4 linked regions of the Homo sapiens genome follow. The protein of the gene in region 4 interacts with the protein of the main gene of each other region in a biochemical or structural test. Each region holds a gene or a part of one and is shown on either strand. Other genes may lie near its edges. The genes, in order: PLD1, RPTOR, RNF152 and RHEB.

Region 1 (7,024 bases), on a different chromosome or scaffold from region 4:
AAAAGAAAAGCCAGAACTTACTTACCTGTACGTTAGCATGGACAGACCCAGGCACTTGATATCTCAACTCATGGGCTGTTGTTTGAGACTTTGGAAGCAGAAAAGGATAAGAAAGGGACCGATATTTTGATTTCATAATCTAAAATAAAGAAAAAGGATAAAATATTCAAATGAGAAAAAAGATTCATTCTCCCTACTTTGTGATTATAAAAGAAATTCATGCCCAGGTGCAGTGGCTCACGCCTGTAATCCCAGCACTTTGGGAGGCCAAGAAGCGGGGATCACTTGAGGTCAGGAGTTCGAGATCAGCCTGGCCAACACGGTGAAACCCCCATCTCTACTAAAAATACAAAAATTAGCCAAGCATGGTGGCGGGCGCCTGTAATCCCAGCTACTCGGGAGGCTGAGGCAGGAGAATCACTTGAACCTCGGAGGCAGAGGTTGCAGTGAGTCGAGATTTCATCATTGCACTACAGCCTGGGTGACAAGAGTGAATCTCCATCTCAAAAAAAAAAAAAAAAAAAAGAAAAAGAAAAGAAAAGAAATTCAGGTTAATTTGAAAAAGAAAAAGAAAAATGTTAATGGTGGACATTTCTAAGTGAAGGGCTACAGATTATTTGTGTTTGTTTTCTACTTCTCACAGTCCTGTTTTTACCTTTTGTAGGGGAAATATTGTTTTATATTTGTAAAGACAGGTTAAATATAATCTGTAGTTACAGAACTTTATAATTGCAAAAATGAGACTATTGTTTTATAAACTAATTTTTTACTGATTATGTTCTAGATATCTTGTCACAGCAATATAGTGGGATATCATTATTTTTAATAACTTCATAGTAAAATGGTATAAAAGAATCATTTGTTTAATAAATTCCTATTAGTAAGGATTTCTGTTATTTCTAATTTTATTTGAATTATTAGAAGCCATATCAAAATAAATTACCTTATTGGATTATGGCTTTAGTTTGAATACCCGGAAATAGTTTTTCTGGATCAAAGATTGCATACTTTAAAAAAGACTTATTGGTGTTGTACAAATTTATCCTCCCTGGGGTAGCATGTATGAGCACACCACAAAAACCACCCCAAACCTAACTACAGGTATCAGCAGAGACTTTTATCTTTGCCAGTATAGCAGGTTAAAAGTAACACCCCATTTGTTTATTCATCCATCTCCCCTAAATTTTTGTTAAAAAATTTCAATTAGAATGTCCACTAAATTTTTATAATCATTATGTGAATGAAAAACAAAGTTAGACTCTAAGTGGTTGATAAAACTAAATTCTTTTTCCAAACGACCAAGGGGAATCATGACTCATTATCCCTTCAAGTAAATAAAGTGAAACTTTAATAACACCTGAATATGTACTTTTTTTTTTTTTTTTTGAGACAGAGTCTCGCTCTGTTGCCTAGGCTGGAGTACAATGGAGTCCTCTCAGCTCACTGCAAACTCCGCCTCCTGGATTCAAGTGATTTTCCTGCCTCAGCCTCCAGAGCAGTTGAGATTACAGGCACCCACCACCATGCCCAGCTAATTTTTGTATTTTAGTAGAGACAGGTTTTCACCATGTTGGTCAGGCTGGTCTCGAACTCCTGACCTCAGGTGATCCACCAGCCTAGGCCTCCCAAAGTGCCAGGATTACAGTCGTGGGCCACCGTGCCTGGCCTGAATGATACGTACTTAACTTATGAATGTTAGGTTTGAATGTTATGTCAAGTTCTTACAAGTAATGAGGACACAATCTGGATAAAAGGAAAATGGCCCCACCTTCTTAATACTTCTTGGTTTGCTCAGAACCAGCTCTCAGAATCCTGTACCAATATAAACCCAGTGCAATTCCAGTCCCATCCAACTGGATGGGACTTTAAAGCTCAAGCCCTCTCATCTAAACCAGGCTCCTATCCCCCTATAACAGCCCTGCAAATGACTACCGAGCCCAGGCTACTAAATGCTTAGTCAACACTGTGTCCAAGATGTTAACAAGGTTAAAATCAGGACCCACACAGCAGCACCTGTCCCTAGGCACTCTGAATTGTCTATGGTGTGGACATTCGGGAATGTTTCCCTTTTTTTTTGCCCAGATGCCCAGGCACCCGGACATCAATGCAGCCAACAGCAGAGCAGTGACACAGTTGTGGCCACAACAGTCTCTTCTTGCTACCAGCCTCCTCTAAACCTCTTCTCTAGTTAGGCCTGCCTCTCTTCATGTGGATAAATCATGATAGCAACATCCAAGTACTTTTGTGAAGTTCCAGCGCTGGATGAAGTGACGTGCCACATCACGAGCCGCCTTCCCGTGGACTGCAGAGGCAATGTCATGCCAGGGCATCCGGGGCGTGGAGTACCTGTCAATGAAATCTGCCCGGGTGCACCAGGCAAGGATCAGTCATTAACTTCAGTGTTGGGGCAAAGTCTCTCTGACTCCAACTATGAAACTAAAAGGAAACGTGGGTTAGTGCCCACTAGGTATATATTTCTTGGCTTGCATAGAACAACATTTTTATAATCAAGGGAAACAGATTTCACATTCAGGGACATAGTCTCCCAGGCACTTCCCCACATATGTTTCCGTTTCACTTAGGATTAGATAATCACTAGACATGGCAAGATGTGAGTTGGTACAAATTATCTAAGGCTGTGTATTTGATATTATATTTTTTATTTTTTATCCTGTTGAAACAATGGCAGGCAATGCCATCTCTATCTCCTCTTAAACATATAAACCCAGTGATAACCTGAAAATATGCCATTCTAACGCTGGAAATGCAGGAAATAAGCAGAATAGAAGATGATCAAAGGGAGCCTACCATTTCCTGAAAAATTACTGATTATTGCCCCCAAAATATGCCTATAAAAATCTGGATTTTTCAGACAGTTCAGCTCTATTTCATGTTCTTTTCTTATTATAACTGAAAAAAAAGTCCTTAAGCACATGCTAATGACTAAATCTAGTCTCCAAAGTTTTAAAAAATTTTCAAAAATCAACGGAAGCAAAACAAAAGGCATTTAGATCATGCACATGTATACTTGCTGAGATGTTCAAAGGTAAAAGACAAAATATAACCAGCACCCCACCATTATGATACTCACCAGCAAAAGGTTTATCAAGTTGAACCCAGTCTTTGAAGACGAAATTGCAGTAGTCCTTTCCATGCCAGAATCTGGTTTCCCCATGCAGCTCTCCCACACCTGTCTGTAAACTACGGATGGACCCGGTATCTGTGAATGCAGCAAGACCCCCTCAGAGACTGTGGTTCAGGTGAGTCCCAGAAAGGGAGGCTCAACTCTCATTTATTAAACACCTAAAAGCTTCTTAATTTCTTAAGACACAACTAGGGTGGCATCTGTCCATTCTATTACAGGCTGTGGGCTAACAAGGTTTTACAGTCCTTACAAGTTTACTTTTAGTGGGCAGTTAGGGCTACAACAAGATTCATCATTAAACAATGAAATTTGACCTTCTCAGGCAGTTGAGTAACTTATTTCCACCACCTACCAGATCACTGGAAGAACTATCACAGAATTAACTGTGAATAAAGAACTCACAAGGTGGCACTATGAGAGCAGTAAAGCTGGTGGGGGGCTTTCAGGGGCAGAGTGGGAAGGGCGGGGAGGGGAGAGGTGGAGAAACCTGAGACGCAGGGGCAATAAAGACACCATGCCACTTCTTTTTCCTCAACCAACATGGTGCACACCTGATGCATAATTCTTTTGCATTAAAGCAAGAACCTCAAATTTACAGATAGCCCATGTTCCAGCCCTGGAATTAATTAGCTAAGTGACACTGAGCTTCAGTTTTTTAGATCATAAATCCATTATGCGTAAAATGAAGAATTTGGCCTAGATAACAGCTAAAATCTGTTGCGCTTTAACATTTATATACTTCAAATCATAGATGGCATTTATAAAAAATATGGTAACAACAGATGAAAGCTTATGATATAGGTGCAAAAGCAGCAATCTACTATAGCATTTCACAAATAACTGTGCCGAGACCATTGACTTACGGCTAAATACAAAGACAATGAAGTAAAAAGATGCAGAATTACAAATCACAAACGCAGCACTTGGCACAAAAGAGGCATTTAACAAATAGACACTGAATGCAAAAATATGTGTTGAATGAATAAATGGTACTGCTTGCAGTAGCCAGTGAGAGGACTACACTGGTCCTGCCACCAACACACTGTCCCAGAACTGTCTTTGTAAAATGCACTCTTTGCTTAAAACCCTGGAAGGTTCACATACTGCCTATAGGAAGCTCAAGTCCTAAGGGCTTAGTGTGCATAGAAGACTCTTCCCAAACTGGTGCCAATCTATCTTTCTAGTCCTTGTTTTTCCCCACCCAACCCCAGGCCCCATGCAAATCACGTGTTTCACTGTATTATAACAGGTGTGGACTGCCATGTCTCCATGCAGTTGGCACATTATTACTTCTACCTGAAATGCTCCTTTCTCCCTCTTGGCCTGATATCCTAATCATCCTTCAAGAGCCACATTAGCTATCACCTGCCATCTCCCCATAAGGAAGAGGCAGTCACTAGCACTGCTGTCATCCCACTAACAACTGCCCCAACACCTCTGACTCTGTGACGCAATTGTATCAGGATGCTCCCCTGCCCGCATCAATGCCTCACCAGTCTATAAACTCTTTGGGAGTGGGAACCAAATCTTCTCACTGCCAGTAGCTCCAAGCACCCAGGCAATCAATAAATATTTGCAGAACAAATGTTTTTATGTAATCACCACACACAATGCTAATATTCTATCTCAAACTGAATCATTAACCTTTCAAAGGCTATTAAAGTTTTCTACAGAAGAAAAATGATTTAAAATGCCATAGATTAGCAAAATGAAATCATGTTAAAAATAGACTTCTATTGACTTCTCCCAGTGATTTATTTTCCTGCTTTATGAGACTGAAAGGCCAAAGTACGGGTAGGTCTGTTTGCTCATCTATAGGCTCTTTATTGTTTACATAGCACTTTGTTAAAAGAAGAAAAGAGGGTGAGAAAAGAAACAAAAGGGATGAAAAATGAGATAAACAATATTTCAAATTTCAAATATAAAATACACATATACAATTTGCTTTCATCAACTGCAAAACTCTAAGCTAAGGCTTTACATAAACACATATACACTCATTTAAAAATTATCTTTCACCTAACAACCAGTTATGATAAGGAAAATAAAGGAAATTCTTAGTCTCAGGAAATTATCTTGGTACTAATTGAATTCAACCTGCTCATAATTCAAATTTGTTTTTGTTTTTAGCCATGGCCTAAAAACTATTCCACATAAATTAGGGTTCCTCCTCAGTACAAATGAACTATTAAGGCAATAGAGCCAAATACTAGTTCCTGTGAAAACAGTAGCTCAGAATTACATGAGTGTGGTCGAGAGGACTTATGGCATCAACAATGCTGATCCAAGGGGGTCTCGTTAGGCTGCTATCTGGCTCCCAAATGATTTCATAATTGCACCTGCCTTGTCTTTTGGCACAGATTTGTCAGGCCAATTTTCTGCATCCTCCTCTGTCAGTGGCTCAGATTCTGGCTACTAAAGTTTATGAGAAGGGGGACTTCTTGTTCCTTGCCTGGTGTCCTCTGGTCGTGCCACATCCTCCTCCTTCTATTCTCATCTCTCGGCTTCCAGGTCTCCATTTTTCTACCATTTCTCCAGCCTATCCTTGTTCTTCTTTCCTAGCTCCTCCTCACTAACAAGGTTTCCCCCTTTCTCCTGTCTTTTTGTTTTCTTTTTCTTCCTCTTTTTTTTTTTTTTTTTTTTTTTTTTGAGACTGGAGTGCAGTGGCACGATCTCGGCTCACTGCAACCTCTGCCTCCCAGGGCCAAGTGTTCAAGCAATTCTCCTGCCTCAGCCTCCCGAGTAGCTGGGATTACAGGCGCACACCACCATGCCCTGCTAATTTTTGTATTTGATAGTAGAGACAGGGTTTCACCATGTTGGCCAGGCTCATCTCGAACTCCTGACCTCGTGATCTGCCTGCCTCGGCCTCCCAAAGTGCTGGGATTACAGGCGTGAGCCACCACACCCGGCCTCTCCTGTCTTTTTCTATACAATTTCTAAAATGTGCACCTGCAAGGATGGCTTCTGTTTTGGACTCCAAATCTAAGGTCACTTCCAGTGCCTCACTTGACATTGTTTACCTAGTTCCCTCCAGAACTTTAAAATTATGTCTAACACTAAAATCATCATCATTCCATAAAATCAAGTCTTTCCTTGAGATTTCTGCTGTCTGTGTGTAGTAACTCAAGCTCAAACCTCGGAATCACCTTTGGCTCCTTTATTCTTCGCTGACTTCTCCACCCACCTCCCCACGGCTTCCCAGATCATGATGAAAATCTGCTGATTCTGCTTTTGGAAAAAGTTTCTCCCATTTACTTCGTTCTTGAACTCACTGACACAACCTTGTCAGACTCCCTGTGTCTCTACTATAAACGCTATAAAGCCTCACCCTTAATTGCTCCCTGCCCCTAGGGATTTTCCAACATTTAATGGAAGAGGTGCAATGTCTCAGTCTGATTTTCAAAGTCCTCCGTAAACTGCTACAGATATATCCCACCAGCTCAATCTGCACAAATCAGCCCTTAACCACAATTCCAAAACTCCAAAAGTTCTAACAATTCAAATGTTTTTTCATAGCTGATTTTCACAGCTCATTTCATAACTCACAGGTCAGCAAAATCTGACCTGAACTGACAAGAGGTTATTTATTATCTTTATTGATCCCACTTGGTGTTGCACAAACATAAATGGTTTGCCTACATTCCAGGTATTTCCTGGATCCTGCTGGGAGTGTAATATAGTAGAGGGTATAGGTATTGTATTACCTTTCTAAAATCCAGAACTTTCTGATTTCTGAAATCTGATTCCAAGGATTTTGTATGAGAGATTATAGACCTATATGTATTTACCACATTCTACACTCAGTCTGAGATGCCGAAATAAATACTTTTGCATTTCCTATATCTGGGTCTTAAGATGTAGTATCTACCTAAAATG
Region 2 (7,024 bases), on a different chromosome or scaffold from region 4:
CAGGCTGCGTCTAACAGTCCCCAGACCTCGGAGCCACGCAAGCGTGGCCTTGGGATGGGCCTCGAGTGATCCTCACCATTAGGGAGTGGGAAGGCCTGTGGTGACCCTGTCAGTTAAGGCAAAGTGACACCTGTCACACTGGGAAGCTCCAGCGAGGCAGGTTTTCTCTTTTCGTTTGGCGACAGGAAGGTAAGTGAAGTTTGTTTCTTCTGCGGTTCTACCTCAACCGTGACCATCACTACCACGACCACAATGGGACGCTCCCACAGCCACAAGCCTTGAGCGTTTATGCTCAAAGAAGTGGGACAGACACATGTTCGCTAGGACTCTACTCTGAACCCCACACCCCGGGCGCACCTTCATGACGGGCTGGGCAAAATAGCGGGCGCTCCAGTCGCAGAACCCCGTCTGCACCGTGGCGGAGATGAAACTTTTGTGTCCAGCAGCATCGTCCGCGTCGTCCGCAGTCTTCAGGGTTTAAGCAGGAGGGTTGGAAGGAAAAAGAAACACCAGTCAGTCATGCCACTCCTGAGCTCAAAAGAGCTGCAGCTGGGGACAAAGGCGCTGCCGGGAGCACCGGGCTGCCCCTAAGGACGGCACTTCTGTGCTCTGCTCACTTCCGTATCCTGGTGACCAAGAACCCCTGAACGTCTGGCCAGGGATTGAGGGGCCCGGGCTGTGAAGTGTGAGCCACGTCGGTCCCACCATCCCCAGGGCCGACCCAGCACAGCTCCCAAGTCAATTCTAACTGACTGTTCAGACAATGCCACGTGCGTCCATGTGTGCTGGTTTATCAACCCCCAAAAAGCCTCTGCCGCTTGGTTCCAGGACAGCTCCTGTGATGGCCCCGTGACACCAGACTGAGAGCGGGGACTCCCATGTGAAGTGGCCTGGACGGAGCGCACAGCTTTGCAGGCCGGCTGGAGCTCCCAGCTACTGGAGAAAGAGGATGTGGAGCTGAGGAGGACTGAGCTTTGGGTGTTTCCTGTTGTGGAACCTGTGGCGGCCAGGGCTGTCAGAGTCTGTGTGTGCTTGTGGAGTGAGGCTGGGCACCAGGGGTCTCCTGTGCCACGCCATGTGGCCTGCTGGCGTCTCTCACGCTGTGTCTTGGCACAGGGAGCTCCCCATGATCTCAGGGCAGGTGCAGTGAGAGGTGCATCCCCCCCACCCCGGGGGGTCGGGTGGGTGAGCTGCACGTGCCGGTAGCATTGCTCCCCAGGGCCTGGCCAGGAGGCTGACCCTGCACTTGGGGCTCGGTGGTGATTCTCGCTCCTCCTCTGCCGAGACACGGAAAGTCCAGGTGGGCTGGGGCTGAGCAGCACCTGTGGGGACCTGTCCGCTCTTGCCGTGACAGCTCTTCTACCCCAACATGGCCGTTCCTGCTCCAGGGCATCCTGCAAGGCGGCCGCTAACTTCTTTTAAAATCACTGGATTACCAAGCGAGCCCCGGACCCCACTCATTGCTGAGATGATCATGCTGTCAGCACCCAGAGCAGCTGGGTGTGCTGGGTGCGCCCTGAACCACCTTCTTGAGCCCAGGTGCCCTCAACTGACAAAGTGGCAGCACCTGGACGAGACAGCCGAGGTCTCCGGACCAGCTGCCACCTCACACCACTCTCATAACCCTGGCAAAACAAAGCAGGCATTCCTCTCTCCAGAAATATCTTTTTCAACTTAGTTAAAGGCAAAGAGAGTGTACCTATTTATGCAGCGTACTTGGATGTTCACAGAAAAGACAACACATTCAGAACAAATGCTCTGCAGTGCAGCTGCCCCCAAGCGGACGCAGAGTGCTGTGTGCCCAGGAAGGGCAGAGCCAGGTAACTCCGTGCTCCTGTTTCGTTACATGGAAGCTGCCCAGAATGGTGAAACCAGAACCAGGGGCGGAGAACCGGGACACACCCAGCAGTGCTCCTAAAGAGTGCAGGCAGAGGGACCGGGACACACCCAGCAGTGCTCCTAAGGAGTGCAGGCAGAGGGGTGCACGAGTGAGGACCAGCACCCGGGTCTGCAAAGGCAGAGAGTGGCCCACAGACCCAGGACGGCAGGGTGGGTCCTGCCCCATCCCATGGTGATGTGAGCAGCCTGAGGCTGAGGCCATGAGCCCCCATCTGAGAAGCAACGCTCTCAGTGTCCAGATCACCAGGCAGCCGGGCTCCCGTACCTGCTCTGGGCCCTTGTCGAACATCTTCCGTGTCCGGGGGAACTGGTGGGAGTGAGGGGTGTACTGCGCCCCAGCGGGGCCTGTGGTGCCCGGCCGGCCAGAAGGCAAGTCTCGGCTGACCGGCTGCTTGGCCACATCGTTGGTCAGGCTGGAGCTGCTGGTGCTGGACGCCGGAGGGGAGCCCCTGCCATTGGAAGAAAAACAAACACTGCATCCTCTGCAGAGTCTGGGGCTTCGAGAGGGAACATGGAACAACTTCCTGGGCCACCTGCACCCTCCCAGGTGCCACCAGGGCCCGGGGTGTCCTCAGTCACCCAGCATGCCATCATGGCTCCCGAACCCCAGCTGCTGGTGCCGAGTCCATGCTGCTCGGTTGCCCGCCTGGCAGGGGGCAGGGTTGTCCCTCATTGAACTCCAGCACCCTGGGAGGTGGCGCGGACAGGACGAACCCAGCTCAGAGTCGAGTGGGCCGGGATGTGCGAGCTCAGCACACAGCAGTGCCACGTCCTGAGGTGCAAACACCTGTTGGTTACCCATTTGGAGATCTAGATCCCCTCTTACAAACTCTGAAAGGCCACAGAGACCAGGCTTCATTCAACTTTTGCTGAGATGATGTGCACATGAAGGGTTCCTCAAGATGGGGAGAGCTCAAGGCAGGGCTCAGATCAGGCGGGTACCGGGGTGTCCGGGAGGGAGAGGGAAAGAACGCCCGCTGGAGAGGGGGGAGGAGACGAAGCCAAGACAGGGCGGGGAAGGAGGAGGATGGGGAGGCCGGCTCAGGGACAGCTCAGCCCGTGGGGCCCCGGTCACCACCACGGACCTGCAGGCTGAGCGGGCGGCACTTACCCCGCCTGGTGGATGTGCACGCCCTTGTTGGTGGGGCTGGCGGGGGCCGACTGCGTGAGGGAGGAGGTGTCCAGGACGCGCTGCGGCCGGGCGTTCACGGTGGCCTAGGGGCAAAGGAATGGGGGTGTGAAGGTCAGACGGGACGTGCTCCGCGGAGGCCGCCACACGAAGCAGAGGCTGGCGTGGAGCCGCTTCAGAATCACAGAAAAGGCCTTTGGCCGAGGAAGCACCAACACCAATGGAAGGCCCCAGCTGGATCCCCCGCAAAGGCAATCCTGAAGCTCAAGTGGTATTCTTTACTCTTGGACATGCATCCACTGGGCTAGCCCTGGCGTGGCCGTGTGAGCCGGGATGTCTGGGGAGGAAGCTCTGCCTGAGGCTCCTGAGGGGTCAGGGCCTGAAGCCTCTGAGATGGATGACGGCCCACCCTCCTCACCTTCCCTGCCAGAGGGGCGGCTCCTGGCGGCCTCAGTGTCCTCCCCCTTGCCTGAGGCTGGGCCTCCACACTGTCCCAGCCTTGAGTCCAATTCTCCCCAACACCTCAGCTCTCGGGTCAGAGGCTGCGAGTTGAGGCCCGGGAAGAATCCACCAGCCATGCTCTTTCCGGAGCCGGGCGATGTGGCATTCACGGAGGGTCAGGGAGTGCTTCATCCACCCGGGACCTGGCCGGTGGGCACGGGGTGGAAAGCCACCAGCAGCCTGAGGCCTCCACGCAGGCCACTGTTTACACCCCCGTGTGCTTCAGGAGGCCACAGAAACTGTCAGAGAATGACTGCAGGGGGCTTGGGCTCTCTCCAGTGGCAAAATGGGCTCTGCTGCCTGGACTGTGACGGGGCCTGGAACTCAAGACCGCCCTTAACATCCTCCTGGCCGAGGGGCTGTGGTCATCCTTTCCCACGGGCGCACGCAGGTGGTGCTGGGTGCACTGCATGGACGGGGAACCTTCATCTCCAGGGCAGACATGGCTGAAACCTGCCCTGGGGAGGGGCGCACTGGCAGGGGAAGGGGATGGCTGCTCCCGGAGGGTGGGGAGCAGGGTGGTGCACAGCTGGCACAGCCTAGTGGGCAGCATGAGGCTCCAAACCACCCCTTCAACCCAGCCGTCTGTGGATGAAGCCAAGACCCTGGGCTCTGAGAGCCTCCTGCCACAGACACCTGCAGGGCTTGAAATTCTACCACAGAAAAAGATTTGTACCAGCTTGAGCCCTGGCATTCAGGAGGCAAGAGGTTTTGCTTTTATTTTTTAAAGCAGGGTTTTCTGTGGATCTGGAGACCAGCTGTCGGCGTTAGTGAGCAGCCGTGAGAAACCACGCAAGGCAGGGCGTGCGCTGCCCGGCCACCGACATGACCTCGCGAGGGCCCAGGTGCTTCGGGGTGGTTTTGTTCTGAGTACACTGCTCAGTGGGGGGAATGCGGGTCCCGCTGGGTTCTGGACTCCAGAGGCTGTGCGCGTTCAGAAGGGGCCTGATGGTGCTGGGGCAACCTCATCTGTGTCAGGAGGATGGGGCCAGCTGCTCCATGAAGGTGCCCACTGATCCCGCAGGCACAAGCCATTCCCTGAGCGCCGGCCCATCCCAGGCTGCGCTCCAGCCAGACAGAACCCTGTCCTTCAGGTCCGCATCCGCGTGGAGCCTGCAATGTCTCATGCTTTTAATTATTCACTTAGAATTTAGGAACCTTGAACCTGCAATTCAGCCAACAGAACACCAAGGAAAACAAAACGATCCTGAAGTCTTCACTCATGTAACACCCACGCTTCCCAGATTGTCCTTTCCTTCAAAACGCAAATAGCAAGAAAATGGAACCATAACTTGTCTTTAAGCAACGTTCCTATTTTTTAAATGACAAGAGTAATACATGTTCTTTCTGAGCTTGTTTTGTTTTGGTATTAAACTATTCGGCCAGCCCTAGACACATACAACCATCCCACAGAACCTGCCAGACATATGATCCCTTCAAAAGTCTAAAAAGAGAAAAGCAAGTTTTCGACTGTGAACTTTATATGTGCCTTCTCAAAATGTCTGGAAAAACAGTGGGAGGTGACGGGGAAGACAGAAAACTTCTGGAGTTGAAATGAAGCCTTTAGCAAAACCCACACATGCTCAGACGCTCACGGAGCACAAAGGCTCAGGCGCTGCTGGGCTGGGGCCGGTGACTCAGGAGCCCTGGGACGTCACGCTGAGCCGCCTGGGGTCTGTGCAGCTCCCGCCTTGCCACCCTGCACGGAAGCGCCCGTGGGAGTACCGCATGGAGCCGTGGTGACGAACCCTCTGCTCTGCCCACTCTTCCAGGCAGGGAACTGATCCGGGCCTCGGCATGAATTCTCGCAGCCCCTGGGGTTATAAGATGAGACCATCCTGCTTTCACATGGCTTGTACCTGGGGCTGCTGTCACAAAACTAATTTTCCACCACTTCTGGAAATCTCGTGAGACAGACACACACCTGGATCAGGAGCCCCCCCCACCCCCATTAGTGTAGTGACCACAGGGGGTTGGCCTGGAGGGAGCTTTCTTTAGCTGTGCACTTCTTATTTGTTCAACATTTACTCAGCGTTGATTGCGCTGGGTGTGGGGCCAAGATTGTGAACATGAGTAGCGTGTCCCTCAGAGGTGACCTGGCAGACCTGCCTGCCTGCGGTGTCGGTGTGAGGACAGGGTACGCAGCGAGCAGGAGCTGCAGAGCTGGCTGGGGCAGGGGCAAAGGCAGAGGACCAGGGAGAGTCCTTTCTGCTGGTCCCTGCCACCATCTTAGAGAGCGCAGCACCAGGAAGGGTGAACAGAGAGGGCACGGCAATGGCAGAGGCTGGGTTTGGAGATGCAAACTGGAGGGCTGAGTGCGGCCCGCACAGCCTCTGTGGGCCCAGGCCTGCCTGGAGGACACGGCGCCCTTCTCAGCATGTACACCCCCAGAGCCCCGGCTCACTCGCAGCCTGCAGAGGTCAAGGGTGTGCAAACATGCCCTCTAGGGAGGTCTGCGTCCAGAGAGGACGGCAGCTGTAAGAGGGTCAAGGTCCCGGCTACAAGACAGGGCCTTTCTTCCACTCCCCAAGCCAACCTTCGGTGGTGGCAGATACGACTTTGCTAACAGTCGAATGCTCAGCACAGACACTCTCTTGGGCCAGTGCGCACATGAACACGCCTGGAAGATGGAGGTGCAGGTGTCTTTTATCCACCCCCGACTGTTGCAGCTGCTGAAGCGGGGACTGGAATGAGACCCACCCTGTCTCCTGTTCCGGGAGCGCCACCTCACAAGGACACGGGGGCGTCTGATCCAATGCAGATGAAAATACCGTACATTTCAGAGACTTGGACAGTGAATTTTCCCACTGGATCTTGACACAGTCAGGGCTGCGGATGCCAGCGTCAGCTTCTGGCTGCTCTATCTTGGGAGGAAGTGGAGTATTTCAGAAATGTTCCTGTTAATTTTATATCGAGGATCTGGATTCATGTGTGAGAAACTCTTAAAAAGGGATTCCCAGAGGATTATCCAGAGGCACTTTTGGGCTAAGAATAGCGCAGAGGCCGCTGGCTGCTTGGTGGGGGAGAAGAAACCCCTGCAAAAGCGTGTGCTGCTATTTCTTCAAGTCATTTTCCTGCAAACTGCGTTTCCTAGATAAATCCTACGAACTCTTCTTTTGGAAAAGTAAGTCCTAGGTATTATTCCATTAAAGCAACGTGGTGACTCTTAACAAGATGCCCATTAGTTACAAAGGAAGCCTTAAGGAATTTCACTTGGGGCCACGGTGCCCTCAGTCCTAGGCGCTGCGGGAAGAGAACGCCGCGTCAGTGGAGGCCGAGGTGTCTCAGCCCACCAGCTCCTTCCCTCCTCAGACCCGGGTGTGTGGGAAGGCTCGGGAGGTTCTGGAGTTGCTGTGGCCCCTTTTCCACAGAGGATGGTGAGATGGCCAAGGAGCTGATGGCGACATAGACATGAGTGCTGATGATGCAGCTGGCTGTGTGGAGCCCTCTCTGCACCTGGGCGGCACAGGACACAGACACGAGTGCTGACGATGC
Region 3 (7,024 bases), on a different chromosome or scaffold from region 4:
GGTCATCAAATAAAATAATTATAATCCTCTCTTTGCCTATTTCAAGTGCATGTTTACTCTGAAGTGAAAGGCCATTAGGTATTTTCAAGGCTGATTCTAGGAGGTTGTGAGCTTAGCATTATGTAATAGAGAGGTGTTACTTACAGACTTTCTCTTCCTCACCATCTGCCTCTTGTTTAAGGCTTCCTGAGTTTGTTTGGAACCGCCCAGGGTAGAAAAAGAGTGGCAATGGGCCTAGGGCCACCCAGGAGGTGGCCTCCTGCAGCAGAGACCACAGGGCAACAGATAAGATCTGAAGGGGGCAGGAATGTGTTTAGGGTAACCTTGGGTCACCCTTTTGTTACTTTGATGTTTAGAAAAAGCAATTTGGGCAAGAGGCTTTTTCTGGTCACAGGACTAGTAGAACACCCAGAGAGTTTAGGGACATTTGTGCTTCCATCAGCAACTGTATTGACTAGGAGGGTGGTGAGTTCTAAAGCCTTCCTTGCCTCACTCTCCCTAAAAAGAGTTGGATGCTATGGAATAGGCATTGCAAGGTGCTCTGGATTCAGCAGTTGGTGGCTTGCAGAGATTTTGCTTTGGGAAGAGCTGTTCACTCATATATCTTTGTTCACATTGTGATAACGGCATGCACGGGTGAGCCATTTTAAAGATTTGATAAATACCTTAAGCATAAGTGTAGAATTTAACAAAATAATATTGCTTTTGGTTCAGTAATCACCTTGGCAAAGTCATTTTTATAAAGATAGCTCTCCAAATAAGGAAGTGGTGTGGTAAACTATGTTAGTCTCCAAGTCACAGTGACTGAGGGGATATCAGTATCAACCTAGGGAGGTTGAGACCACCCGGCTTCATTCAAGTGATAAGATGTAGCACCCAAAGCGTTTCTGAATTGGGAGATGAGCAGCTTGGAGACCAGCAGGAAGAACCAGATATAGACCATCCAAAAACCCATTCAGGGTGCCTGGGGTTGGGCTGAGGGCCAGGCACAGACTGAGGGAGAAGGAAAATGAAAGCCCCGAGGGACTAGTCTTGAACTATATTTGGGAAGCCCCAAAATGCATTTCTATATTTTCTCTGGCCTCTGGGTCCCTACCACTTTAATTTCATACCCAAGTCGGCTGGTCAGGTAGAGGACTCTTGTGGCATGAAAGTGGTTTCTGGCACTGCCCATTGTGACGTCATGGAAACCGGAAAGGAAGAAGGTGTTGGTTTTCCTGCTTCTTTTCCCATGGCTTCGAGAGTTACACTGTGTGATCCAGCAGTCTGACTCCATGATTGAAATCACAATTGGGATAAAGTTGGTAGAGATGCTTCTTAATTTACAGTGGGGTTATATCCTCATAAACCCCTCATAAGTTAAAAATATTGTAAGTGGAAAATGCATTTAATACACCTACTGACATCATAGCTCAGCCTTGTCTGCCTTAACTGTGCCCAGAAATGCGCATTAGCCTACAATGGGGGCAAAATCATGTAACAAGAAGCCTATTTTGTATTAAAGCATCAAATATCTCATGTAGTTTATTGAATACTGTATTGAAAGTGAAAAACAGATTGGTCGTATAGGCACTCAAAGTACGGTTTCTACTGAATGTGTATTGTTTTCACACCATTGTAAAGTCAAAAAATCAAAGGTCATAGGTCAAACAGTTGTAAGTAGGGAACCGTCTGTGCTTGTTACATGCTTAGGGATTTTCAATTTCTAATTGACTCACTGTCATTGTAGGATTTAAAGAGGGAGACCTCAAATAGTGTATCTGTGACCTGCATCTCCTTTGGGTGGTTCTTGATGTCCATGATTTCTTGGCCTAGATCACGTTTGGCTGCTAAGGCCTGGACTACGTTCTTCGTGGAGTTGTGAGGGGGCTGCTTGTGATCGCCTAGGAGTGGAGAGGATGCCTTATTTACCCCTTGATATACTAATGCCTGCATAAATAAAACTCATTGCAAACATCCTGCATGATGAAACTTACTCAAACATCACATAGACTTCCTGGTTACCTGCCTTTCATGCAAAGGAGGGGCTGAGCAAATGAAGATGTGCTGCTGGTGGGAGCAAAGTTATGAGGAAGTAGAATCTCCAAATGCTGTGTTCTGTGCTTGTATTTTCTCTTTCTACAACCTCCTCTCCCCTGCCACTATCGCATTCCCACCTACCAAGGAAGTGTAACTTTCCCGGCTCAGTTCTGATCTAGACATCCAGATAATCACACTTGGTGCACTCCTCACTGAGGTTTGACAAGAATTGAAGAGATTTTGGTAAAAGCTTTGACAGATACTGTAGAAATAGGGAGCATTCTTTTTTTTTTTTTTTTTTTTGAGATGGAGTCTCACTCTGTCACCCAGGCTGGAGTGCAGTGGGGCATGATCTCAGCTCACTGTAACCTCTGCCTCCTGGGTTCAAACTATTCTCCTGCCTCAGCCTCTCGAGTAGCTGGGATTACTGGGATAATTTTTTCTATTTTTAGTAGAGACAGGGTTTCATCATGTTGGCCAGGCTGGTCTTGAACTCCTGACCTCGTGATCCACCCGCCTTGGGCTCCCAAAATGCTGGAATTACAGGCGTGAGCCACCGCACCTAGCCAGGAGCATTCTTCTTACTATTGCTGTTTCTGCTCCTTGACAGATTCACTTAGTGACAGTTGCCACTGCCGCATCTTAGTCAAGAACCTTGTTTCTCTCTGGGCTATGACAATGGTCTTGCTCACTTTCTGGCTTTCCCACCCCACTCCAGTTTGGAAAATGCTGTCACTCTTAGACCATTAGGCCAATTAATCCTTCATCCCCTCACTTAATAACTTTTAGTTGCCCTTGTGGGAGGAAGCTCATATTCTTCAGTTTTGCTTTTCAAGTTTTCCCCAGGTTGACCCCAAACTTCCTTTCCAACCTCGACTTTTGCTCCGCCTGACTTTAAAACTGAACATTAGCTGGGATGGTTAATCCACTGTTGCCCAAAATGTTTTTCATTGCCTCTTTCTTATTCTAGCACATTCTGTGGCCTAAAATGTCCTCTTCCTTCCTCTGCCTCTATCCTATCATCGAAGCCTCAGTTCAGCTCTCAACTCTTCTGAAAAATTTAACTTGATCACATTAGCCTTTAGAAATTCTTTATAATCCAAAGTTCTCTGGCAAAATTGCCTCCATCTCTCATTTCATTCAACATTCATTCATTCATTCTACAAAGGCCACTTGTCATAGATTGTCTTGTATTATCACCTACGATTGAAGTGTCTTTTTCTTTCTGTTTAATTGCAAAGAATAGAAATTCACTCAAGCTTGTTTGCATAAAGGGAGGTGAATTGAAGAGATGTCCCAGGATGTCTTGTCATCAAGCCACATTTCCCAAGAGTTCCAGTGAATGGGACCCTTCCAGTTATCATTCACCCTGGACCTGCTTAGTGCAGGAGAGGGTTGGGGGCACAGTTCCTTCCAAGGGGGCCTGTGGCTGGCTGATGTAGCAGTTGTGACCTGCAATTAGCCTACAATGGGGGCAAAATCATGTAACAAAAAGCCTATTTTGTATTAAAGCATCAAATATCTCATGTAGTTTATTGAATACTGTATTGAAAGTGAAAAACAGATTGGTTGTATAGGCACTCAAAGAGATCTCAGTTCTCTTGCAAGCTCCTTAAAGATGACTGGATGAGGCTTTACACCATTGTGTGTTTGCCACCGTGTTTGTACACAGGAAGGGCTCAATAAACAAATCATTGGTGACTCTTTGACAACACAGAAAACGATTTTGACTTACAGTGATTTAAAGGAATTTTAGACCCTTTTAGCTTGAAGTCTTAAAGGAAGTTAAGAAGATAGAAACTTATTTTTAAGAGCTTCCCCTACTTGCATTAATAATGATTAAATGTTGAATCAAATTAGAATGACCAGGCTGCAGTACGTATACCAATGTTTGGGAGGTGAATGTTCTCAATGAGGGTCATGATTCTAACAAAATTAGTTGTTACTCAAAGCCTGTTTTTCAACTTCCATTTGCCTCCTACTTTGCCCACAAAAAAAAAAAAAAAAAAAAAAAAAAAAGAAAGCAAAAGAAAGCAAAAGAAAAAAAACCTCTACTTGGTGACATACAACAAGCAGCTTTAGGACTTTACAGCCTACCAGACCACCCCACAATCTAACGGAGCAGGCATTGATGCCTGGATTTGTGATGACTGGGTGTAGTTGCCCACCGCTGACTGCCCCACCTGCGTTTATAATTAAAGGCTTCAATACCTTTGTGATATACATCTGTTTTACCTCCCTTTTTTTGATTTTGGAATACTCATTCACATGATAGAAACTCTTCTTTGATACTCAAAATGCTTGATCATTATGAGAGTGTTATTATGAAAGAGGGAAATATGTTCAGCTGCTTGAAGAAAATGACCAGAAATACATTAATATTAAAATAACGCTCTCGGCTGGGCGTGGTGGCTCACGCCTGTAATTCCAGCACTTTGGGAGGCTGAGGCGGGTGGATTACTTGAGGTCAGGAGTTTGAGACCAGCCTGGCCAACATGGTGAAATCCCATCTCTACTAAAAATACAAAAATTATCCAAGCATGATGGTGTGCACCTGTAATCCCAGCTACTTGGGAGGCTGAGGCAGGAGAATTGCCTGAACCTGGGAGGCAGAAGTTGCAGTGAGTTGAGATCGCACCACTGCACTCCAGCCTGGGCAAAAGACCGAGGCTCTGTCTCAAACAAACAAACAAAACACTCTCAGTTTGAAAGGTAGTGAATAGGGCTGAGATAAGTGTCTCAGGAACCAAGTATTTGTTGTGATATTCTTTTGCAGTTGTGTTGTTCTGGGGTAGGTTTGCAAATTGCTTCCTCGAAGATTAATAATATGAGATTAGAAGTGGTTGGTGAGCACATGGACAAATTTGTGTACTTTGGAGAATTTACCCCTTTTGTTGCATGAGACATAAGATTACTGCCATTTTAAGTGAGTAATAGTTAATTCAACCATGCAGGTAAAGAGGTGTCCTTAACTGGGATAAATAGTCCATCCACTCCACTCCTTTACATTGGTACTTCAGAAACTGAAGGTACAGATCCATCCATTCACCTATGGTGGTGTGTAAAATAGCATTTGAAACACTGAGCATCAGGTATTTAAACCACTTATTAGGCAAACAATTGCATTCATTAAATGTATTTTGAATGGCCAGGCATGGTGACTCACGCCTGTAATCCCAGCACTTTGGGAGGCTGAGGCAGGCAGATCACCTGAAGTCAGGAGTTCAAGACCAGCCTGGCCAACATGGAGAAACCCCGTCTCTACTAAAAGATACAAATTAGGCAGGCATGGTGGTGGGCACCTGTAATCCTAGCTACTCTGGAGGCTGAGGCAGGAAGAATTGCTTGAACCTGAGAGGTGGAGGTTGCAGTGAGCTGAGATTGTGCCACTGCACTCCAGCCTGGGCGACAGAATGAGACTGTCTCAAACAAACAAACAAACAAAAGAATGTTGAATGCCTATGTTTTACCAGGCATAATTCTAAAAAAATCCCTGCCTTCTAGCTTCCTGTAGGTATTTAACTCATAATTAATTTGGTTTTCTGCTTTTTTTTTTTTTTGTAATGGCAAAGCTAAAAGGGTAGAGAATAAAAGAAATGTATCTGATATTCTCTCAATTCTTGATACCTTAGCATATATGCCTGCCTTACATGGCTCTAATTCAGGTAAGTCATTATGAACTGGAATTTTAAAAAGTAAGATGGGTTTGGGTTTAAATTTCACGTCTGCCACGTGACCTGAGTGCACAAGGTCTGACTGAGTTTGTTCTTCAGCTGCAAAATGGGGGAGAACCGACCTCATTGAGTTAGTGTAAGAACAGGAGAGACTTACATATAAAGTGCTTAGTGTGTTGCCCTCCACAATGTAAGACTAAATAAATGGCAGCTGTTGCTAACGTCCTTATATCCAGCATCTACCATCCACCAATCATTGGGCTCAGTTCTGGAAATATCGGGATGAATAGGCATGGTCTAACCTGAAGAAGCCCTTAAGCTAGCCAAGGAGGTGATGGCATCCAAGTAACTACAGCCTTCAGCGTTTACATGGGAGTTTCTTTTACCTGTCATTATTGTCAGAGTCTTTGGTTTGAAAGTCTGTAAAGCTTTCAGTGGCTCTGAGTTTAAAATGATAGGCCTTCTCAGGAGGAAGTGGGGAAAAAGCTGGAAGCAACTGGAGGAGAGGAGTCTGAGAAAGGGTTCTGAGCTAGCCCCCAGGCAACCTGAGTCTTCCTTAAAGGAGATGAGTCGCCTTTCTCCTGTGGCCTCACTCTTCCCAAGTGAAATGAAGGACATCCTCTTTCTCAGGGTCTGCTTTCTTGGGAGTAGAGTGACCCCCAGACTTGCCCATGACTAAGAGCATACCTGGGTCATGGAACTTTCCGTTTTAAAACAGTCCCAGAAAAATTGGGATGAGCTGGTCACCCTCCAGTCTTGTTCTGTGATTGTTGTTTGACATCCTGAAGCAGGCTTTGTAGAGATCTAACATTGTTAGTAGAGATACAACCATCCTACAAGAGAGGAGCAAGCGGGGCAGAATAAAATGGGAAAAAACATTGTAGCCTTGTCAACCCCTTTATTTAGGAATCTGCTTTTTGGAATGGGATATTTATTATTATTAAAAAGAAGAGAACTGTTTAATAAAGGCAAGGAATCTAGGCTATACAATATAAATATAAAGTTAATGAAACCTTTTAGAAATTCTTCTTAAAAAGGGGTAGCCGCTTGGGGCCCGGTACACAGTAGACACTCAGTAAAGACTTATTGAAATGGTGGCATCAATTTATTCTTCAGAAATATTTTTGAAAGCTGCATAGAGAAGTGCAAGAGGCCTCTGAGACATGCATTCCAGGACAGGTTGAGGGGCTGAACACTGTGGGCTTTGAACCAGTCTGCGCCTCACTCTTCTGGGCCCTTCCATCACTCATTTGAAAATGCATGCATCTAGATATGCTCTGGGTTTCCTGTGCTGGTATCTGAGTGTGTTTATGTATGAGCTGATGCTCTTC
Region 4 (7,499 bases):
CTGCTCCAACCATTTTGCCTGGCCACTGCTACCAGCAACCTCAGGAGATTGCTGGGCTTGGCAGCCTGCTGCTGGTGAAGGCTCCTACTAGGAACATCCTGGTCTTGGGGATGGGAGAAGCCAACTTCATTCACAGCCCAGCAGAAACCAGATTTGAACTTTTAATGAAACTTTCTTGAAAATTTGAGGACAGTTAATGTGTTAGTTTCCTATAGCTGCCATAACAAAGTGCCGCAAACTGGGTGGCTTAAAACAAGATAAATTTGTTCACAGTTCTGGAAGCCGGAAGCCGGAAATCAGTGTCAGAAGGGCCGTGTTCCCTCTGAAGTCACTAGGAATGGACATTTCCTTGCCTCTTCCAGGTTCAGGTAGCCCCAGGAGTTCCTTAGCTTAAGACGTCACTCCAGTCTCCACCTTGGTCTTCACGTTGACCATCTCTTGCATGTCTGTGTCTCTTCTTATGAAGATACTAGTCATACTGGATTGGCCTACCCTACTCCAATATGATCTCATCTCAACTAATTACATCTGCAATGGCCTATTTCCAAATAAGGTCACATTCTGAAAGGGTAGGACTTCAACATATCTTTTGGCGGGGGACAAATTCAACCTGTAACAATTGAGAACAGTTGAGAACAATTTACAACTACTGTATAACCCCAGACCTGTCCTCAGAGTTCTTTGCTGAGCCAGCCCTCTCTCAAACATGCCCTACCTGCATGGCCTTAGGGCTGGCTTACTCCACATTCCCTCTTCTGGGAGGACTCCATGCAACTCCATACCTCAGAGTTCAGACCAAACTGATCCCGTATGTCAGAGAGGGCAGGATTTACCTTCCTCCCAGTGAAATTCAGGGAATTCACCTTTCCCAGGATGGCTTTCATCCTACAACGCTGCGGACAGGACAGTCAACTCCCCACCAAGGAAACCCCTCTTCCATCCACAAAGGACCTGCCCCTTTGACTCCAATAAGATGACCACATAATAGAATAACCTTTGCATGCATTGTTTGATTTGGAATGACACCAGTGTGAGACATAACAGTTCAGTCTGATTTGGCTTATGCCAAGATCAAGAGGATTCTGGTTCTTCTCCATTCTTCCCTCATCAAATATTTTTAAAAACCAAACCAAACCACAAAACTCCTTAATGTCTACTTTCATTGGGGTCACCCTTTTCCACATAAAAGAATGTCCTTTTGGTAAAAACAATCACAGCAGTGGTTTTTTACTCTGACCTTGGTGTAACCCAGTGGTAGGGGGAAAAGGTTTTGTATGTTATCTCTGGTACTTAAAACAAATATGTTGGAACTAGAAATCAGATACTGGGCTTGGAAGTGCTCATGGAAAGTTAATACAAACCCCATAATATCAGATGTCCAAATTTCAAAGAACTTCCATAACCACCAGCCGTCAGAGGTGTAGGTCAGCAGAGACCCCTCTGGACAATCTACATGCTTAGCATGAGCTCCTCACTCAAGGGATGATGGGAATTAACAGAACCGATGATGTTCTCTCTCTGGGAACTTAACAGAAGACACATAGTTCTTAGTTCGCAGGGAAAGGGAACAGAAGTGGAAGTACACACAGAGAGAAGGCAGCAGGCTGAGGACTCGAGCACTCCCGAACAAGCAGGACCTGCTGAGGAGAAGCTGACTGGTGGCAGCAGACCTTCCAGCTGCTGCAAAGTCAAAGGTGACTGAGTTAGCCACCAATAAGGGAGCTACTTTGAATACAAAAGCAAGTCCATTTCTTCCAACACTGTTGCTGTCTGGTTGCAGTCAGGTATTTCCATGTGAATTCAGACAATGAGTCCCTACTATTTTAGGTAATCTGAGCCATTTCTTTTTTTTTTTTTTTTTTTAAGACAAGGTCTCACTTTGTCACCCAGGCTGAAGTGCAGTGGCACCATCTCAGCTCACTGCGGCCTCGACCTCCTGGGGTCAAGTGATCCTCCCACCTCAGCCCTCCACGTAGCTGGGACTACAGGCAGGTTCCACCACGCCCGGCTTTTTTTTTGTATTTCTTTGTAGAAACAGCTTTTCTCCATGTTCCCCAGGCTGGCTAAGTCACTTTTCAAACCAAACAAATTCTCCCCACTCTAGAATAAAGGAATCTTCTAAACCTTTGGATCCTACATTAAAGGGCTTGAAGACAGCAACTGGAAAACTTTTTTTTTTTTTTTTTTGAGACAGAGTCTCACTGTTTTGCCCAGGCTGGAGTGCAGTGGCGCTATCTGAGTTCACTGCAACCTCGCCTTCCAGTTTCAAGCAATTCTCCTGCCTCAGCCTCCTGAGTAGCTAGGATTACAGGCATGTGCCACCACGCCTGGCTAATTTTTGTATTTTTAGTAAAGACGGGGTTTCACCATGTTGGCCAGGCTGGTCTGGAACTCCTGACCTCGTGATCCGCCTGCCTCGACCTCCCAAAGTGCTGGGATTACAGGTGTGAACCACCGCGCCCAGCCTGGAAAACTTTTTGAATGAATTTGTCCTTTACAACTGTGCTTCACATCTGGATTACCAATATTCTCAGGCTAGGGCAGTGCTTTCAAACTTTTTGAAGCAACCCACTGTAAGAAACTTTACAATGAGGCCGGGCACGGTGGCTCACGCCTGTAATCCCAGCACTTTGGGAGGCCGAGGCGGGCGGGTCATGAGGTCGAGAGGTCGAGACCATCCTGGCCAGTATGGTGAAACCCTATCTCTACTAAAAATACAAAAATTAGCCAGGCGTCGTGGCGGGCGCCTGTGGTCCCAGCTACTCGGGAGGCTGAGGCAGGAGAATGGCGCGAACCCGGAAGGCGGAGCTTGCAGTGAGCCGAGATTGCGCCACTGCACTCCAGCCTGGGCGACAGAGAGAGACTCCGTCTCAAAAAAAAAAAAGAAAGAAACTACAGTAAATCCCAACATGCAATAATACATATATAGCATATCTATAAACATATATATCTACACGTGCACTTACACAAACTTACCCTTACTCATTTTTTTAACTCACCACTGTACTAATGAGGACACATACTTACCCTTACTATGCATAACGCAGTTTTCTATTCTGTTCTATTTTTTTTAAAAAAAGGTAAAACTAAACTGATTTTATAATGCAAGGAATTTAGTAGCATCTGTTCAAAAACACCGTGGTGAGGGTATCCGAATCCACAGGATAAAAACGACACATTTTACAGGAGAGTGCATTTTAAGACCTTTATTTTAAAATACTTAAAATAACTATAGCGTAAACCTCAACATTTCATGGAAACATAGAACTTCCAGACATTGATCACTTCTGGCTGGCTGCCTGGGGCTTCCATCTGTAGATCCCCGAGGACAAGAATGCACACCCCAGCCCCTCATCGGAGTGCTTCCGTGGGAAAGCTGGAGGGAGTCGCTCTTGGGTTGGGTGTTCCAAGTCGACTCCAGTCACCTCTAAACCTTCCTACGCTGGAATACAAGGCCTGCCACTCAGCTTCCCCTGGCTTCATTCCTCCCCACCGATCACTGGCAAAGGGCGAAGGGCCATGCCCGGCCTCTGCAGGTCCCCACTGCCAAACAGCCTGGGCAGAATAGGGGCGGGTTCCCCGGCGCGGCGGAGTCTCTGCTAACTCGGCAAGTGCCAAGCCCTCCAGCAGCCACCACGCCGGGCCTGCCTGCAGGCTGGTCCCTCAACGGCACCTGCGTTCCCGGCCGGGCTTCCCTTCCCGCGCCCCTCTGCACTGCACCCCTGGGAAGGCTGTGCCCACACCACGGTCTCCGCCCGTCCACACCGCGGCCCGAGGCGTTCCTGGCACCCGGCTCGGGCCTGCCCGCCGCACCAGCCGCCCCGGTGCTGGCGGAGAACCGGCTTCCCGCCCCGGCGCTGTTCCAGGAGGTGCGCCGAGCTCCGCGCGAAGCGAAGCGGACACCAGAACTGACGAGGCTCGCCCTGTTTTTAATGAAATTCCTAACACTTTGAATTAACGCAGACTCCATGCTTCCCACAGTCCTTCGGCCGTCGGTGACGCTTAGTCACCACTACATCCTCAAACCCAGACACGAACGCTAACGCAGCTCAAGGAGAATTTTCAAAAAACCCCGAGGGAGGAGCCAGCCCACCCGCCCAGGCCACGCGCCTCGCGCCCTTCACGGGCTCAGCGGGCGCGAACCCGCCAACCGCTTAGCGTTTCGCCAATCACCGCACCTCCCACCTATTGCCCCGCCCTGCGCTCCGTTCTGGCCAATCACCAGGGAGCCACCGTTTGTCTCTCCGCCTCTCCCGCCCGCCCCTAACCGGTTGGAAGTTTGAAGCCTTCAAACCTAGCCGGCGCCCAACAGCGCGGTAGCAGCGAGGTGTATTTTTAGCTCCCGGGCGGGCAGCCCCGCCCCCCCCTCCCCGCCTCCTTGTTTCCCCCAATGGGAGATGGAGTTTCCGACACGTCATCGCGCGGCTGTGCAGGAGCTGTCCAATCGGCGCTCGGGGAGAATGGCGTAATTAAAAAGCGGCGGAAGAAGGTGGGAGGGTCATGACGCAGCGAGTTTCAGTCGTGACTTTTCTGGGGGCATCGCGGCGTCCCCTTTTTTTGCCTTTAAAGTAAAACGTCGCCCCGACGCACCCCCCGCGTATTTCGGGGGGCGGAGGCGGCGGGCCACGGCGCGAAGAGGGGCGGTGCTGACGCCGGCCGGTCACGTGGGCGTGTTGTGGGGGGGAGGGGCGCCGCCGCGCGGTCGGTTCCGGGCGGTTGGGAGCGCGCGAGCTAGCGAGCGAGAGGCAGCCGCGCCCGCCGCCGCCCCTGCTCTGTATGCCGCTCTCTCCCGGCGCGGCCGCCGCCGATCACAGCAGCAGGAGCCACCGCCGCCGCGGTTGATGTGGTTGGGCCGGGGCTGAGGAGGCCGCCAAGATGCCGCAGTCCAAGTCCCGGAAGATCGCGATCCTGGGCTACCGGTCTGTGGGTGAGTGGCCGGTGGCCGCGCGGCCTCCTCGCGCCGCCGGGGCCTCGCCTGGGAGCCGGGTCGCGGCCGGGCCTGCGAAGTTTGGAGCCGGCGCGGCCATGTGGCGGGGCGGGCGGGGGCCGCGCGTTTCGTAACCACCATTCTGAGCGGAGGTGGTGGCGGTCGGGGCGGCGTCCGCGCCGGTGGAGGAGCCGCGGTAGCTGGGCGCCCTCCGCGGGCCGGGCGGGCAGGTGGCGGCCGGGCGGAGGGCGTGGGAGGCGCGGGGCGGGGGCCGTCGGCCGCCGAGGAGTCCGGGTCTCGTCTGGGGAAGTGAGGCGGCGCCGGGGAGCCGCGCTAGAGGCTGCCGCGAGGGAGTCACACCTGCCTCCCCGCCTTCGCCGCGGGCGCGCGTGACCGGGGCTGGCGGTCTCCCCCACCCCGCCCCCGATGTAAGGAAAAGAAAGTCCGTGGGATTTTAACAAAGGAAGCAGCGCCTCGGCTTCATTCCATCTGTGGTGAAGTTTACCCTTGTAAAGAAAACTAGGGATTTAGAGGACGTTTGGGCACTGAACGCAAGTTTTCTGCATAGGAAACCTAGGCGATCCCCCAAAAGAGGTCCCTCTGGAGGCCCTCGAGATGCTGCTGGCGGCCTGGGTAGGAAGACAGAGAAAAAGGAATGTCTGATCTCTCGGTGCCCTATTTTTGTTCGGGAAGGAATAAGGTCAGGTACTTGCAACCAGGCTGTTGAAGTAATTCCAAAGTCTTTTTGTTTTCTTTTTCTTCCCCCAAAAGGTTGACATACATTTGAAACAGTTCCTAGCAGTCGCCTTATTGCTGAATAAGGTGGCTTAGGGTCGGGTTGGGGGGCGGACGGGGTGTTACAGAACGAGCGGTTTTCTGGCCTGTGTGAAACCAGAGCGATTGAACTTAGACACGCTTCAGGGTGAGGCTGTATTGTCTCCCGACATCCGGAAGCCTGGAGAAATTAGTTCATCTTTTCGGGCTGTTTTGAAGTAACTGTCTATAGAAGGCGTGCACCGGGCCACAGTTGAGGGGATGGGGAGGTGAAAGCGAGGGTTCCGAGGCTCCCGTGATTGCGGAACGGGGTGACTATCTGTCATGGGAAGCTTGTACCTGCCTGCCGCTCACTGGATGCACTCCCCAACTGCGCTTTCCACCGCCTGTGCCAGGGTCTGTGCTCTTTGACCAAGATCAGCCACTGCATGCTTACTCATCCTTTTACCACCTCTCCGTCGAGAGCCGGGGGGAAATTAAGGGCTGAAAGAAGCTTGGCTAGAGATGCGGGGTGCCTAGAGTCGTAGGGGAACTCTTGTGCGATGCGGTGCTGAATCCGAGGGGATGCATAGGTGGCAGCTTTAACAGCTGCAGCCAGGAAGTAACCATGAATCAAATGGAGGGGTTCAAAGTCACTAATTGTTCAAATATCAACATGGAACCTGGGATCCAGCCTTTATTGGCAGCCTGAATCCATGCTCTTGTCTCTGTTCTCTTGATTTCCTCCTCTGCATTTTGAGGAGTTGGGACCGCGAGGTGTTCTGGCTCTTGGGTGAGCCTTCCCTAGTCAGTCAAGTAAGTACTTATTGGCAACTATTTGGAAATAGTAGTCCCTGAATAATCACGTTATAGGCAACAAGTACCTCGGCTACCTGATTTCAACCCAAGAGAATGACCTAAAGATCTTGACTGATTTACCCTTTTCAAATGTCGAAATGGTAGCTCTAGTCTTTGGTGAGCAGGGCTAGTTTTATCACTTTTTTTTTTTTTTTTTTGGCTACAGAAGTTCCTTATGTCCAGTTGAAATCCATTCTGTTTTATCTTCCCTCTATTCAGCGTCCTCCTGAGGACGGAGATGTGACAGGCCACCCCTTAGCCTTGTCCTCACAAACTGTTGCTTGTTAAATACTGTGCTAACTTAGTCTCCGGTGGGATACAGGGTCACTTTTAGTCCCTATTTTCTGTCTTCAGTATTTCATATTTCTGCAACCTACCCCACTTCTCCATATTTATTTTCAAGCGTAGTCATATTAAACGATTTTGGAGAGGTTAAGTTGCTCCCAATCTTGTATTTGATTTTTTTTTTTTTTTTTTTCCGAGACGGAGTTTCGCTCTTGTGACCCAGGCTGGAGTGCAATGGCGCGATCTCGGCTCACTGCATCCTCCACGCCCCGGACTCAAGCGATTCTCCTGCCTCAGCCTCCAGAGTAGCTGGCACTACAGGCGTGCACCACTATGCCCGGCTAATTTTGTATTTTTAGTAGAGACGGGTTTCACCACTTGGCCAAACGTCAGGCTTGTCTCAAACGCCTGACCTCAGGTGGTCCTCCCACCTTGGCCTCCCAAAGTGCTGGGATTATAGGCGTGAGCCACCATGCCCAGCCGCATTTGATTTTAAAGTGTATTATGAGCCAGGATATTTTGTAGTATGTGGGGTCTTTTTTAGGGGAAGGAGATTAGGTTTTGCCAGCAGGTTTCTTCTAGTAAGCCACCCTTTTGAGAATTACTCAGCATGCTCACTTCTGGGAGCTTACTGGCATGTTTGCTTGCAAATGGTGGTGCTGTACCAGAGAAATTT

The links.
Region 1: the proteins of RHEB (region 4) and PLD1 form a complex in vitro, tested with the Homo sapiens proteins (one study listed by BioGRID).
Region 2: the proteins of RHEB (region 4) and RPTOR form a complex in vitro, tested with the Homo sapiens proteins (one study listed by BioGRID).
Region 3: the proteins of RHEB (region 4) and RNF152 form a complex in vitro, tested with the Homo sapiens proteins (one study listed by BioGRID).

Annotation. Positions count from the first base shown.
Region 1 is NC_000003.12:171,674,475-171,681,498, forward strand, and holds part of PLD1 (phospholipase D1), read right to left. Parts: intron 3,221-7,024; coding exon 3,092-3,220; intron 2,360-3,091; coding exon 2,241-2,359; intron 140-2,240; coding exon 26-139; intron 1-25. UniProt on the Homo sapiens protein: Function as phospholipase selective for phosphatidylcholine. Implicated as a critical step in numerous cellular pathways, including signal transduction, membrane trafficking, and the regulation of mitosis.
Region 2 is NC_000017.11:80,918,814-80,925,837, reverse strand, and holds part of RPTOR (regulatory-associated protein of mTOR), read right to left. Parts: intron 3,115-7,024; coding exon 3,011-3,114; intron 2,349-3,010; coding exon 2,165-2,348; intron 469-2,164; coding exon 358-468; intron 1-357. UniProt on the Homo sapiens protein: Component of the mechanistic target of rapamycin complex 1 (mTORC1), an evolutionarily conserved central nutrient sensor that stimulates anabolic reactions and macromolecule biosynthesis to promote cellular biomass generation and growth.
Region 3 is NC_000018.10:61,883,000-61,890,023, reverse strand, and holds part of RNF152 (E3 ubiquitin-protein ligase RNF152), read left to right. Parts: intron 1-7,024. UniProt on the Homo sapiens protein: E3 ubiquitin-protein ligase that acts as a negative regulator of mTORC1 signaling by mediating ubiquitination of RagA/RRAGA and RHEB.
Region 4 is NC_000007.14:151,516,888-151,524,386, reverse strand, and holds the start of RHEB (GTP-binding protein Rheb), read left to right. Parts: upstream 1-4,491; 5' UTR 4,492-4,875; coding exon 4,876-4,927; intron 4,928-5,409; exon of another isoform or gene 5,410-5,627; intron 5,628-7,499. UniProt on the Homo sapiens protein: Small GTPase that acts as an allosteric activator of the canonical mTORC1 complex, an evolutionarily conserved central nutrient sensor that stimulates anabolic reactions and macromolecule biosynthesis to promote cellular biomass generation and growth.